Linked DNA regions of Homo sapiens. The protein of the gene in region 2 purifies or fractionates together with the protein of the main gene of each other region. This does not show direct contact. Each region holds a gene or a part of one and is shown on either strand. Other genes may lie near its edges. The genes, in order: CSNK1G3, ALPK2 and ARRB1.

The links.
Region 1: the proteins of ALPK2 (region 2) and CSNK1G3 purify together in Homo sapiens (affinity purification with mass spectrometry; one large-scale study listed by BioGRID and IntAct). This does not show direct contact.
Region 3: the proteins of ALPK2 (region 2) and ARRB1 purify together in Homo sapiens (affinity purification with mass spectrometry; one large-scale study listed by BioGRID and IntAct). This does not show direct contact.

What each region holds. Positions count from the first base shown.
Region 1 is NC_000005.10:123,571,163-123,574,819, reverse strand, and holds part of CSNK1G3 (casein kinase I isoform gamma-3), read right to left. Parts: intron 1,428-3,657; coding exon 1,279-1,427; intron 1-1,278. UniProt on the Homo sapiens protein: Serine/threonine-protein kinase. Casein kinases are operationally defined by their preferential utilization of acidic proteins such as caseins as substrates. It can phosphorylate a large number of proteins. Participates in Wnt signaling.
Region 2 is NC_000018.10:58,626,876-58,630,632, forward strand, and holds the start of ALPK2 (alpha-protein kinase 2), read right to left. Parts: upstream 2,217-3,757; 5' UTR 1,889-2,216; intron 1-1,888.
Region 3 is NC_000011.10:75,259,587-75,262,263, reverse strand, and holds the end of ARRB1 (beta-arrestin-1), read left to right. Parts: 3' UTR 1-2,142; downstream 2,143-2,677. UniProt on the Homo sapiens protein: Functions in regulating agonist-mediated G-protein coupled receptor (GPCR) signaling by mediating both receptor desensitization and resensitization processes.

The DNA.
Region 1 (3,657 bases), on a different chromosome or scaffold from region 2:
CAGGGTCTCACTCTGCCACCCAGGATGGAACGCATAGCTCATTGCAGCTTCAACCTTTAACCTCCGGGCTCAAGCAATCCTCTTGCCTCAACCTCCTCAGCAGTTGGGACTACACAAGCACACCACCACACCTGGCTTATTTTTTTTTTTATTTTTATTTTTGTAGAGACAGAGTCACACTATGTTGCCCAGATTGATCTTGAACTCCTGGGCTCAAGTGATCCTCTAGCCTCAGACTCCCCAAAGTGCTGGGATTACAGGCACAAGCCACCACACCTAGCCTATAAAACAATCTTTAATATGCACTTTTTAACAGCTGCATATTTTCCTCTGGATATTAATTTATTCAACTAACCCTGTTATTTCTGCATATTTGGGTTGCTTCTCCTTTTTTTATTATAAACATCCTTTCATATAAAGCTTTAAGTACCTATGAAAACATCCATAGGATAAATTTGTAGAATTAATGAGTCAATGAATAAAAACAATTTTAAGACTTCTGCAGCACACTTCTATTGGCATTTATTTCGAAACTGCCTTAAAATCACTCTCTAATTGTTATCCAACGGATTCCCTGAAGTCTAAGTAGTTTATCAAGACTCTCTCATTAGTCTGCCTCTTGTTTTTCCAGGTCATAAAGTCTATTACCAAAATTAAGAATCCATGTTTCTGGCCCGGCACGGTGGCTCACGCCTGTAATCCCAGAACTTTGGAAGGCCAAGGCGGGCGGATCACAAGGTCAGGAGATCGAGACCATCCTGACTAACATGGTGAAACCCTGTCTCTACAAAAAATACAAAAAATTGGTCGGGCGTAGTGGCATGCACCTGTTGTCCCAGCTACTCGGGAGGCTGAGGCAGGAGAATTGCTTGAACCCGGGAGGCAGAGGTTGCAGTGAGCCAAGATCTCGCCACCGCTCTCCGCCCTGGACAACAAAGCAAGACTCCGTCTCAAAAAAAAAAAAAAAAATCTATGTTTCTGAGGGTTCTCTTTTGAAGTAATCATCTTTTATATGAAGAAATGGCTAGCAACAACTTAATTTGCAAACTGAGCATTTTGATCTTAAAGCAATTATTAGTTTTTATACAAATAAAATATACTTGACTCAGTTATTTTAAGTTACATGGATCCCAGAAAGACAACATGAAAAGTAGAAACATTTGTATTACGTCAAACGCTCTGTAAGACAATATCACAGAACTTTAAACTTTTAATATGAATTTGTGACCAACAACCATGTAATTGTTCAAACAACTTCAAATACCTTATTTTACTTACCAGTTGTATAGCTATCATGAGAACTGTTTTAAGAGAAAATGTTCTGTCACACAAGTCAAACAAGTCTTCCAAACTAGGTCCCAGCAGTTCCAGCACCATAGCATTGTATTTACCACAAGGGCCGAAATAGTAAACTTGAGGTATACCATCTGGGGGAAAAGAAATACTCATTTAATAATTTCATCATCTTAAATACTAAGGTTTTCCTCTTAAAAACTGATATTTAAAATTTTATAGTTTCAAGAACTAAAGCAGTACTATCACTTTTTCCAGATACATACTTTTCCTGACCAAACCTCCCAACCTCCCAATACCTTCTCTTTGATGTTCACATTGTAGCCTGGATACACCTCTATTGCAGCTGCATGACTGAATTACATTATAAACAGTACTTCATTGTTTCTCTCTACCACCTTATTACTGGACAAAAGCTGGGCTTTTTAGCTTTATATTTCCATGGCCTGGAGAAAGGCTTAGCACATAGGAGAGATTCCAGTTCTACTGAAAAGAGAGTCACTACTGGCTTTAATAACCATGTGATAGGCATACTGCTAAGATCACCACTGTCAAGATTCCCATCCTCTGGCTTATACACCTTGTATAAACCCCTCCCTTTGAACGTGAGCATGATTCCTGGGATCTCACTATTGTGACCAGGCTAACTTATACGGCAAATGTAATTAAGGCTCCTATCAGTTGACTGTAAGTTGATCAGAAGGAAGAGAATCCTGGTGGACCTGACCTATTCAGGTGAGACTTTAAAAAGATAGTCTAGAAGTCAGAGATATTGGAAACAGCAGAGAAACTCTCCTGCTGGCCTTAAAGTAGCAAACCACCATGCAGTGGAGGGAGCCACATGCCAGATAGGAATCCTTGAGGAAGTAAGGGCCACACAGTTCTATTGCCATGAGGAATTGAATTCTGACAAGAATCAGTGAACTTGGAAGAGAGCACTGAGGCTCATGTAAGATTGCAGTCCAGGCTTACACCTTAATTTCCACATGGTAAGACTCTAAACAGAAGACCCAGCAAAGCCATGCCCGTATTCCTGACCCATAGAAATTGTGAGATAATAAAGTCTTTCATCTTAAGCCAGTAAGAGATAGTAATAATTCATTATGAAGCTATATAGAATAATACAAACTCCAAATATGAAGTCTGAATAATACAAACTCCAAATATGAAGTCATCTGTATTTTATTTTCAGAACTAACAGACTCCCAATAAACTGAAATGTAAGTGATCAATTTACTTTATATGGAAGTTGTCAGAATCAAAACAGAGTCACTTGTATTAAAACCCTGACAAACAGAGCTAGGGAAGGAGATGAAGGGAGGGTTCTCACACATATATATATATATGCCTGATAAGAAGAACTACCACAAAAGACTGCAAAAACCACAACCTGGAACAAAAGCCACCACAACTTTACAAAAAATTACTCTGTGAGGACATCTGCCCAGGAACTGCCTGTCCAACTTCAGACTGAGGCCATTCTTGTTAATGATCCTTGTAGCCAAGGGTAACTCTCTCAAAACAACTTATGTGACCCTCCTCATTTTTCCTTTAAAAACTCTTGTCTTCCTTTACCTCCCTGAATATACTCACATATATTCCCATTGTAATGCCCACTCGTAAATAACTATCATTTTCTTTTAGACAAGTCTCCCTATTATTTAGTTTGACACTTAACACTGCATTTATCTATTAGCATGAAAAAATGAACTTCTTCCACCACAAATGTCTCAGTTTTACTTCCAAGTGATTTTTTTTCAGTATATTGAAAGAGAAAACAAATCTAATGAAAACTTCTCATTCTTTTTAATAAAACGTTTTTTAAATATAACATTATTATTATTTACCCTATTATTTTGAATATAAATCATTGCAGGACAGAATAGAAAACACTGAACTAAAAACCAAGAAAACTACATTCTTAGTCTAACCTAATATTCATCAGCTGTGTGGCTAGCTTGTCATTCAACCTCTCAAGTGGGCCTCAGTTTACTTATCTATTATAATATTAGTGATTTGGATGAGACAAGTATTTCTCAGATATGAATATGAGTGAGGCAGCAGAACATCTGCAGGTGGGAATGTAAGCTAGTGTAATCACTGTAGTCCCAGCTACTCGGGAGGCTGAGGTAGGAGAATCACTTGAACCCAGGAGGCGGAGATTGCAGTGAGCCGGGACTGCGCCACTGCACTCCAGCCTGGGCGACAGAGCAAGACTCCTTCTCAAAAAAACAAAACAAAACAAAACAAACAAACAAAAAAAGATAGTGTAATCATAGCAGGAATGGATACAAATTCAAACTGCATACATGGTGCCCTCCCCAGAAACAGAGATTCTGATACACCCCAATGTGTATGTATCAC
Region 2 (3,757 bases):
GTTTTAGCAAAAAAAAAAAAGACAGAAGCTTTTAATTAAGGTGAAAAACTAACTTTCATTGAGAAACTATGATTCGACACATACTTTAGGTATATTTATTCATCTAATCCCCCATCAATCCTGTTAAAGTGAATACTGTTAAGATTTTACAGATGAGTAAACTGGGGTTCAAACAGGTTGAAAAGTTATGCTAAAATTAGGAGTCGATTCCAAATCTGACTCCAAAGCCTTTCTCAGGACCTCCCCTGCTTCTCCCACCTCCATCCAGAGTAAGATACTAACTCAACTGCATCGCATCACAGGGGCTGATACCTACACACAAGTGTTCAGGAGGCTGTTAAAAACTCATGAAACTGGAGGAGAAAAAAACTTTGTAGGTAATGACAATAGGAACTCTGCCCTACCTAAAAGCTTCCCAAAATTATGATTAAATGTTTGGTAAAAACATCAAAAAGACAATGTAGGCCAGGCGCGGTGGCTCACGCCTGTAATCCCAAGACTTTGGGAGGCCGAGGCGGGTGGATCACCTGAGGTCAGGAGTTCAAGACCAGCCTGGCCAACATGGTGAAACCCCATCTCAACTAAAAATACAAAAAAAATTAGCTGGGCATGGTGGCAGGCACCCGTAATGCCACCTACTTTGGGAGGCTGAGGCAGGAGAATCGCTTGAACCCAGGGGGCGGAGGTTGCAGTGAGCTGAGACTGAGACATTGTACTCCAGCCTGGGCAACAAGAGCAAAACTCTATCTAAAAACAAAAAACAAACAAACAAAACAAAACAAAAAAAGGACAATGTATATTTGGGAGCTAAAGTTCATTTAGTTTGTTTTAAGTCCTGATTTCCAAGATCTGAACATGGTTATTGGCCATCCATGCTTTTTAATACAGGATTTGTGAAGTTGTTGATTCGGAAGGTAACCCACAACATCCTTGGTTTCAATTCAGAAGCCACACAGCAAAAAACCCCTTCAATTTGTCCTTAGTTGATATAGAGTTATAAAACATATCACATATCTCTGGAATGACCATTCCTGGTTAATTAATCTTTAGAAATAAAGGCTACCTTTACTTAAGGAAAAGGTTGTGGAAAGAAAATAATTAGAGCAGAAGCAGCTCTAAATGCCGTTCTTGCTTTTATCTATTTTTAAATGATTGCCAAATGTCTGTAACTGACACCCTTAATCAAGGCTTTTAAAGTTTAGATGTGTTCATTAAATTGTAATGTGACAGTGGTGGCATTTAATTGATGGATTTTTTTTTGGCTGACTTTTTGCCTTAAATTTTTTTTTAAATCTATTTAACAACTCGATAAATGTTTACATCAGCCATTTTGAAAAGCCTGATAGCTTTTCAGCAAATTGCATTACCTGTTGTCAGACAATATACTCCTGTGTCTACCCAGATAGGAGAGATTTTCAATCATTCAGTTAATTCACAGTAAAAGGAATAACTCTTGACTAAAATACTCAAATATTTCAGACAAAAGTCTCTGGGGCCTGAGTTACCTGGATAGTTGACTTTTTATGTTGCTTTGCAAAACTTTACATATCACTCGTTTGAGTCATTCTGTATATTTTTTCTAACTGTTAAGATAGACATGATGTGAAAGAAACTGTTTTCATTCATTATTGTCAAGCCAAAATAAGCAAATTTAAAAATAGCAATAATTTTCAAAAAGGGTCAAAATGGACTTAAATTACAAGACCATGAGAGTTTGCCCACTTTAAAACCTTATATGCCCAAATATCCCATATAATCCCTATTGGTTTCATCTCATTCTATTTCATCAGGAAACCATCTGCTTTGTTCTTTGTTGCAGAAAATGTAAACAACTATATATTGAAAGCACAGCCATTCCTTATGTAAAAACCAAAGTCTACATACTTACTTTTCAGTACTCTTTGTCCAAGAAATGTTGTAGGAGGGCTGGCTCAGCTGTGGATTCCCCAGGCTGTGTGTGAGGCATTGATTGGGTGTCCCTGTTCCCGGGACAGGGATTCAAAGGAGTTTATAGGGCTCAGGGTCTTCCATGATCAGGTCAAAGCATAGATGGGTCTGCTTCCAGAAAGTTCATCTCTTCCTAAGAGGGGAAATTCCATGCCCGGGGAAGTTCTGGAAGAAGAGCATTTTTTCCCCGCCCTTCAGTGAACTAGGTCATTGCTGAAGCTGGAGAATATATTTTAGCATCCCTGTGATGAAACTTGAGGGCTGTTTCTGCAGTAGGTGCGACACTTGTTGACACGACACGCTGGGGAGGCCCTGGCAAGGGGGCCTGGTGAAATGCAGCCCCAGGGAGCTGATGAAACCCAGACGAGCTGTCACTGGCTGCTGCTCAGGAGACCGAGCAGCTCTTTACAAAGCCCATGCTGGACCCTGGGCTTAGTTGCTCGCTCCTTAGGAAAGGAAAAACTTGCTGCCTGATAAAGGGATTAAGGCCGGAGTAACACAACCAGTTCTCATACCAAGGTTATCAGGCATTTGAAGTACACATAGGAAACCCGTGGAGGGGGTGTTGGGGAGGTGAAAATATGTGTCATATGTTGTTCATTTAGAACAGGCATTATAGCCATCCTCTGAAGTTCTCTGAGAAAGGCAGAAGCCACAGAAGGAAGGCAGGATCCACCCTCCTCACCCTGCTTACCCCCCCTTACCCCTTGTCTGTCTGTCTGTCTCTCTCTCTCTCTCTCTCACACACACACACACACACACACACACACACACCCCTTCCTATTTTGACTACGATAGAAGAGAACAGACAAAGATCAGAAGAAATCCACAGAAGAAATACCACAGGTCCTATTCCTTCAGATTGCCTGGAATGGTTCTTGTTGGGAAAGTAGATTTTGTAATATGGGCAATTCTTTTATTGAAGTTTATCCAAGTCCAAAAACATAGAGAATCCTTTAGCATCATTCTGTAACTACTTAGCCTCTCCCCAAAAATATTTTAATGTATGACACCTGGAAATTGACAGCTTAGACAGAAACCTCTTTTGAGACTCGTGGAGACAGCTCAAATTAGCAGCTCCAGGGGTGACTTTGAAAGGGACATAGCTGTAAATATTCACTCTGTGTAGGGCACTGCAATCCTCAAAAGCAAATTGTTTTTACACAGCACAGAATGTACATCATTATCCCTTGATGGAATGCAACTTTTCACAAGATGAAAACTCATCTAAAACGATAAAATATTAAGAAATGTAGGGGTGATATGTTCTGTTTTTCAGTTTTATCTTCATGTGAGAAAAAAGATATTAAAGCTGAGGCACTGTAAAATAATGACTATCTCCTGGGGAACACATCTGTGAAATGCCACAGAACACAGAAATTACCAACTCTTTGCAAATGGTCGGCTTTATGGAAAGCTGAGGTCTTCACAATGTAAGGTCTTTTCCAGATAAGAAAGAGGAGATAACTTCAAGTTGGGAATGAAGAGAGGAGGAAAGTGTGATGATAAAGAATAAACAAATGCTGTCGCACACCACAGAGAGAATAAAGTCAAAAGTGAAGGAATGTCCCAAAGCAATAGATAAATGTGATATGGTTGTGAAAGAAGTGTTGCCTGGGAGTTATTAAATGGAAAAGTTGAAATTCACTATGAAACTTAATTTTGTTCCTCTGAAATAATTTGAAAAACCAATTCCCTCAACTCCCAACATTCATCTCCTAGCAAAATAAATGTAAAGAGCAGAAGGTTTATATATGTGCATATATAGATACACACACACACACACACACACACATACACACATATACAT
Region 3 (2,677 bases), on a different chromosome or scaffold from region 2:
CAGAGGCCAAGGGGCCTTGGCTCTGACCCAGGTTAAAGAGAGCCACCAGCCCCCAGGCTCAGGGAGCTGAAACCACCCATCCGCAGAAATCTAAGGGCAAGGAGAAATAGAAATTGTCTGTTCCTTCCCTTCAAAGTGTAAGGCCTCTTCCAGGAGCAACTGGAGCCACCACAGCTTCTCAGTGACATTGGGAGGGCTTCGGGCCCAGGAAAAACCCAAGCCTTTTGTCCTGAGAGCCGAGCCACAGCGGATGCAGTGGCGTCAGCATCCCAGAGCGGCAGCTTCTCTCCTGCCTGTCACTGGGGACTGGTTGCTCTCCACCCATCCAGGAGGAAGGGGTTAGGTCCCAGTCTTACACTCTTATAGGGTCTCATGGACATAGGCCTATGCCTGTTCTGATATCTATAATTTTTTAAACTCAAAAGGACCAAAACACTCCTGAACCCTCATCTATACGGCCTGCACTGGGCTTGGTGTTTCCTCCTGGCCCAGGCAGCTCCATCTCTTCTGCCATTCCTCCTGGACGAAAGTGGCAGGACCCCACCTCTACCACTTCCCCACAGGGTCACTGCACAGCGGCTTCAAAGACACGCCCTGTTGAAGGGGAAACATCCTCCCCCCATCACACTCCAACTCGTCACCCCAAAAGGGAAGTCAAAGCACAGGTCCGTGGGGCCTATGGTTTGTAGACACTGACACAGTGGTTTTCAAACCAGGTGCTGCGGAACCCCTGATATTCCACAGAGCTTTGTCAGGGGATGCTAAAGTGGGAAGATGGGAGTGGAGGCAAAGGATAGGTTTCCAGCCCTCCTCCCATTTCCGCCGCCACCAGAATAACTCTGCTTTTATCTGTCTTGCCTACTGAGATTTCATTTTCAAGCTTTCTTTGAAGAAGAACTTCAAACCACCATCTCGAGGTTTGATCTTAGACCAGCCAGCACAGGTTCTATTCTTGCTGTTCATGTTGGAATGGCTCCAGCGTTCCAGTACAAAGTGTCTTTGTGTTGGAACTTGGGTCACAGACCCAGGCACAAGCATTTATACACACACACACACACACACACACACACACACACACACACGTACATAGTTGATGGTTTTTCTAGCCAACCCACCCTGAAGCTCTGGCCAAGGTTTGATTTGGACAGGGACCTGGTGCTCAGTGGGGATGGGTCGTGACCCTGATATTGGCCCATGAAGCATGGGGAGCTCTGGAGCAAGGAAACAGGCTCAATCCCCCACTGAGGACTTGTGTCTGCACCCCTATCTGGCACCCCACTTTCCTGGCCTAGGCCCAAGGGACACAGCAGGAGAAGCAGTGTGATAGGAGAGAGGCTAGGGTTAAATTCATCTTTACACAGCGCCGGATGGATGGAAATCTTGGCTCACATAAAAGACAGACTCAGGGAGGATTTTATGACAAAAGTCCCTCCTTTGAGGGCAGGATTCCCCCAGGAATCCTGGACACTTTAGTGAGAACTGGACCAGCCCTTGGCACAAAACCCTGCCTGCCCTGTCCCCCACTCCCACCCCCCAGGGAATTCTAGGTGAAAATGTGAAGCTCAGGGCACAGCAAGCGCATGACACGGGTGTATTACATTCGGTCCGAGTGTGTCCTTAGTTTCCCTGTGTGCAAAATGGGGCTAGTCCAGGCTCTTCCCACCTCACTGGGACAATTGCAAGGGTCATAGGAGAGGTGGGTATGATAGGTGGTCATATGAGGTGGTGAGTATGAGAGGTGGGTGCCTCACAAACTCGGGGTATGGTCCTGACCTGCATGGCAGATGAGCAGAGCACTTGGGAACGAGCATAGGAAGTGCCATCTTCCCGGGCATCTCTGCTCAGTGTTAAGGTCTAGCCACAGACACTGTGGGACCTGCCTCTTCCTATGGAATGGGGGCCTGCATGGGTTGTGTCCTGGGGCAGGAGTGAGGGATGGCTGGGAAGAATCTCCAGGTCTGTGGCCCTTGTGTTGAGTGATTATTTTGTGACACTCTCATTCCTGGACCACCTGCCAGGTTTATCTGTTATACCTGTGGCATTCTTATTATGTCAGACAAGTTATTATAGTTCATTCAACTCTAACAAATGAACAAAAGAACAATAAATAGGAGGCCATTAAAGGTCTTTTGTGGCAGAGGATGCTGGCTGTGCTTTCATTTCTGTCTCATAAGCCCATGGCAGGTCAAAGACCAAGAAATGCCTCCCTGCTGCCCTGGACTGGCAGATGGGGCTCATGACTGGGTGAGGTGCTCTCTTCCCTTGTCTGTGGCCCCAGCTCCAGCCTGGTCCTTGTACCAACTTCTGGAGACTGCCAAAAACTTTTCTCCTGTCCCTCTTCTGCCACTTTTCAGCCTTATGGCCTTGGGAAGCTGGCATACCTCTCATCCCTCTCAGATACCACAGGATTTTGTGACCCATGGTTTGCTCCTGGGGTGAAGCCATCCTATCTTCTATCTTTGGCACCACTGACCACATCAGTGGGAGTCCTCACCCCAGCCCCAGCCCTGGTTCTTGTTCACTTCTTATCTCCTGCCCTGCTGGGTCTTCCTGAAGTCACTTCAGTTTTCAAAGACTTATGTGCCACCTGGTCTAACAGAACATATGGGAGGAGTAAGGATATCAGTGAGGAAGAGTCGATGTTCTAATAGATAATGTACTGTATTAACACAAAAGG